2 separate regions of the Homo sapiens genome follow, and region 2 is linked to region 1. Evidence: fine-mapped expression QTL. Tissue or cell type: whole blood. Region 1 holds a variant in brackets; the other region holds the start of a gene. All regions are shown on one strand. Distances are between the middles of the regions.

Region 1 (2,613 bases):
ACCATGACTTTGTGAGGTTGGAATATTTACCAACGCCCGCCAATCTTTTTTTTTTTTTGGGCAGAGTCTCACTCTGTCTCCCAGGCTGGAGTGCAGTGGTGTGATCTCGGCTCACTGCAACCTTTGCCTCCTGGGTTCAAGCCATTCTTCTGCCTCTGCCTCCCAAGTAGTTGGGATTACAGGTACACCGTAATGCCCAGTGAATTTTTTCGTATTTTTACTAGAGATGGGGTTTTGCCATGTTGGCCAGGCTGGTCTCAAACCCCTGGCTTCAAGTGATCTGCCTGCCTTAGCCTCCCAACGTGCTGCGTGCTGGGATTATAGGTGTGAGCCACTGTGCCCGGCCCCCATTTTTTTTTTTTTTTAAAGACAGGGTCTCACTCTGTCACCCAGGCTGAAGTGCAGTGGTGCAATCACAGCTCATTGTGGCCTCAACCTCCTGGGCTCAAGTGATCCTCCCACCTCAGCCTCCCAAGTAGCTGTGGCTATAGGTGTGTGCCACTACACCTGGCTAACCAACCCCATTTTATACCTGGGCAAACTGAGGCCCAGAGGTGGGGTCTCACGGCTTGTCCATTGTCATTTAGTGGGTAAATGGCAGAACTGGGATTCAGATTCCATCTGTGCCTCCCACTGTTTGTTGATCTCTTTCTACAGCTGCCTTCTTTTTTTTTTTTTTTTTTTTTTTGAGATGGAGTCTCACTCTGTTGCCCAGGCTGGAGTGCAGTGGTGTGATCTTGGCTCACTGCAACTTCCATCTCCCACCCCAGCTCCCTCGTTCCTCGGGAGAGGTGACTCTGAGATGCATGTTCCACATTATCTCCTGAAAGTCCCCACTAGGGTAAAGCTCCACCTGCCTAGAGAGATAGCCTGCTCAACTAACACATTTTTGGTTAATTTTTAAAATTAAAAAAAATTTTTTTTAGAGAGACAGCATCTCTGGCCAGGTGTGGTGGCTCACGCCTGTAATCCCAGCACTTTGGGAGGCCGAGGCAGGTGGATCGCTTGAGGCCATGAGTTCGAGACCAGCCTGGGCAACATGTTGAAACCCCATCTCTACTAAAAAATACAAAAATTAGCCGGGCGTGGTGGTGCGTGCCTGTAATCCCAGCTACTCAGGAGGCTGAGGCAGGAGATTTGCTTGAACCCGGGAGGCGAAAGTT[A/G]CAGTGAGCTGAGATTATGCCACTGCACTCCAGCCTGGGCAACAGAGAGACTCTGCTAAAAAAAAAAAAAAATTAGAGAGACAGGTTCTCGCTGTGTTGCCCAACCTAGAGTGCAGTGGTGCAATCATAGCTCACTGCAACATTGAACTCCTGGGTTCAAGCAATCCTCCCGCCTTCGCCTCCAGAGTATCTGAGACTACAGGTGTGTGCCACTGCTCCCAGCAATAACACATCTTTTAACACATCTTGTTCTTTCTCTGCCTTACTTTTTTTTTTTTTTTTAACAGAGTCTTGCTCTGTCGCCCACTGTAACCTCCGCCTCCCAGGTTCAAGTGATTCTTCTGCCTCAGCCTCCCGAGTAGCTGGGACTACAGGCCTATGCCACCACACCCGGCTAATTTTTGTATTTTTAGTAGAGACGGGGTGTCACCATATTGGCCAGGCTGGTCTTGAACTCCTGACCTCTGCCCTTGTGATCTCCTCGTGATCTCCACGTGAACTCCTCGTGATCTGCCCATCTCGGCCTTCCAAAGTGCTAGGATTACAGGTGTGAGCCACCGTGCCCAGCCCTGCCTCATTTCTTCACACCCCGTTGGTGTTTCCTGGGATCATCTCCAAAATAATCTACCTGCATGCATTAAACTCCTTATCTCAGAGTTTGCTTTTGGGAGAACTCAAATGATGATGCTATGGGATGAGTGTCATCATCAAAGATGAGTTTGTGAAATGGTTCTGGTTTGCCTGGGACTGAGGGACTCCTGGATTGTGGGACTTTTGGTACTAAACCTGGGAAAGTCCCGGGTAAACCAGAATGAATTGACTATCCTTATAGGAGGATAGTGTGGCATCAGGGAAGCCAAGAGAAGAGAATGCTTCAAGAAGAAAAAAAATGATCAACAGAGTCAAATGTTGACCCAGCGGTCAAGTTTGGTAAGACTGAGAAACAACCAGTGGACTTTGCACCGAGGAAGCATTTGGGACATTGGTTCATCCTTTGGTGTGTTGCAAGCAGAAGTTAGATTGCAGTGGTTGAACAGTGAGGAGGTTGGAGCAAGTGAAGACAACACAGTGGAAACAAGCTTTTTTCTAGAATTTTTTTTTTTTTTTTTTTGAGATGGAATTTCGCTCTTGTTGCCCAGTCTGGAGTGCAGTGGCGCAATCTCGGCTCACCGCAACCTCCATCTCCCGGGTTCAAGTGATTCTCCTGCCTCAGCCTCCTGAGTAGCTGGGGATTACAGACATGCGCCACCACGCCTGGCTAATTTCGTATTTTTAGTAGAGAGGGTGTTTCTCCATGTTGGTCAGGCTGGTCTCGAACTCCTGACCTCAGGTGAACCACCCGCCTTGGCCTCCCAAAGTGCTGGGATTATAGGTGTGAGCCACCACACCCCACCTTTTTTTCTAGAATTTTGGCTGTGAAGAGGAGGAGAGATAGAGTGGCTATTGCAGA
Region 2 (2,613 bases), 59 kb after region 1:
GGTTATCATTATTTTCTTTGTATAAATTTATGGGATACAAGTGTAATTTTGTTACACGCATAGATTTCATAGTGGTGAAGTCAGGGCTTTTAGAGTATCCACCATCCAAATGATGTACATTGTAACCATTAGGTAACTTCTTATTTTCCACTGTCCTTCTACTCCCTCAGCCTTCCCAGTCTTCATCGTCTATCATTCTACTCTCTATGTCCATGTGTCCACATTATTTAGCTCCCACTGATAAACAAGAACATGAGGCATTTGTCTTTTGGTGTTTGAGTTATTTCACTTAATATAATGACCTCTAAAATTAATAATAAAATTATCATTTATTTTCTTGTCACAGGAAAATGATAAAGGAGGGAGAAGAAAGAATAGCAAGAGAAAAAGGAAAAAAGTCAGGGCAGGGCTAGTTTGCAGAAGTTATCAAGAAGGAGAAGACATCAATTAGAAAACAAAACTTGCCAAGAGGAAGATGAACAACGTATTAGAGACCGGGTGCGGTGGCTCATGCCTGTAATCCTAGCACTTTGGCAGGCTGAGGCGGGTGGATCACCTGAGGTCAGGAGTTCGAGACCAGCCAGGGCAACATGGTGAAACCCCATCTCTACTAAAAATACAAAAATTAGCCAGGTGTGGTGATGTGTGCCTGTAATCCCAGCTACTCAGGAGGCTGAGGCAGGAGAATCACTTGAACCCGGGAGGCAGAGGTTTCAGTGAGTCAAGATTGCGCCACTGCACTCCAACCTGGGTGACAGAGTGAGATTCTGTCTCAAAAAACAAAACAAAACAAACAAACAAAACAAACAAAAAACCAAGCTACTAGATTGGATAGGAACATTTTAGGGATATTCGAGAGCATACTTTGAATAGGGTAGTCAGGAAGGAAACCACACTCCAAAGGGAAAAGGTGAGAGTGTTCAGAGCAGAAGAAAGAGGAGGAGAAAATAACCAATTGTTGAACCAAGTGGTCCCTGACTGGGGGATAGGTTAAGCCTCAGTCATTGTTACAGTCACACATACCTGGAAGAAGCAATGGTCCCTGCATTTCTGTGGTACGGGTATCCCACGCCAGCCAGCCCTGGAAGCTCTCTACTGTGCCGTAAGCCAACCACCTTTCCTAGCTCAAGAAATCCCATGAGAATTGAAGTATGTATCTTAGGTCAGCTGACTCATGAAATTGCTATCAGAAAAGCAAACTGCTTCCCCTCTTTCGCCATCAGACTCATGGTTCTGCTTTTCGTTTATTTGCTGTACCTTTTCTGCCTAGCTATTGTTGATCACCTTTGGGATGATTGAGTTGGTAAACCCTAACGAGGAAATGCCCTGAAAGTTACATCACATTGTCTGAGGATTAGGAAGTGCCTTTGGGGCCAAAATAAATCTTAAATAAGCCTGTGGCTTTGAGGTGAGTAAACCAGATTTTAGGGTGTCTGTGTTGGTATCTGAAGTTTCCAGAGGAGTCATTTTAACATATCTTTCTCTTCCCCCAGTAGATGATACTTACTGGTTATGATTGCTGAGCCATAAGAAGTTAAGAGTCCCAAAGTCTCATAGAAGGTAATACATTATTTGGTTATTTGGACCAACCCTAACCAGTCACAGGACTTGGGAGAAAAAGTCTGTAAATCTACCCTTCCTCCAGCAAATATTTATTTATTTATTTATGTGGGTCTTGCTCTGTTACCCAGGCTGGAGTGCCGTGGCACAATCATAGCTCACTGCAACCTCAAACTCCTGGGCTCCAGCGATCCTCCCACCTCAGTCCTCTGAATCGTTAGGACTACAGGTGCATGCCACCACGCCTGGCTAATTTTTTTTAGTTTTTATTTTTTTTTTTGAAGAGAGACAGGGCCTCGCTTTGTAGCCCAGGCTTGTCTTGAATTTCTGGGCTCAAGCAATCCTTCTGCCTCAGTCTCCCAGTGTTGAGATTACCGGTGTGAGCCACTGCACCCGGCTCCCCTGCTTAAAACTCTTCTGAAGCTCTTCATTAGACTTAAAACACCAGACTTCCTACTGAAGCAGTGTTGTTGTCTGGGGTTCATCCTCTCATGCCAAGTAAATCAAGGATGCGGATGCACAAGAAGTGAATTTAAGGCCGAGCACTGTGGCTCACCCTTGTAATCCCAGCACTTTGGGAGGCTGAGACGGGCGGATCACCTGAGGTCAGGAGTTCAAGACCAGCCAAGCCAACATGGTGAAACCCTGTCTGTACTAAAAATACAAAAATTAGCTGGGCATGGTGGCGCATGCCTGTAATCCCAGCTACTCGGAAGGCTGAAGCGGGAGAATTGTTTGAACCCGGGAGGCAGAGGTTGCCGTGAGCGAAGATTGCGCCAGTTCCTTCCAGCCTGGGTGACAGAGTGAGACTTCATCTAAAAAAAAAAAAAAAAAAGTGAGTTTCAGAGCAGAAGTTTAACAGGCAAGAGAAGAGAAAAAAGAGAAAAGCTCTATCCTGCAGAGAGAGAGGGGCTCCCAAGTGAGTCTTCTGGTCTCGTGGTGAAATACATGGGGTTTTATAGCCGAGCTTGAGGAGGAGCTGTCTGATTTACACAGGAACCGAGAGATTGGTCGGACTGGGTGTGCTGTTTGCATAGCACGCAAAGAAGCTGG

What was found. PIP is the estimated chance that this variant, and not a neighbour inherited with it, causes the effect.
Region 2: it holds the start of ADGRE3, and the variant in region 1 is fine-mapped to the expression of ADGRE3 in whole blood (TOPMed, PIP above 0.99).

The regions. Positions count from the first base shown.
Region 1 is chr19:14,614,538-14,617,150 of GRCh38, forward strand. It overlaps a transcript of ADGRE3 not described here. Among named protein-coding and RNA genes, the nearest start is that of SNORA104, 6.4 kb to the right of the region's middle. The variant A/G (reference allele first, on the strand shown) is at 1,164.
Region 2 is chr19:14,673,723-14,676,335 of GRCh38, forward strand. ADGRE3 (adhesion G protein-coupled receptor E3) reads right to left here and starts at 1,122. Exons shown (of 16, transcript NM_032571.5): 1 at 1,024-1,122. The coding sequence starts at 1,048.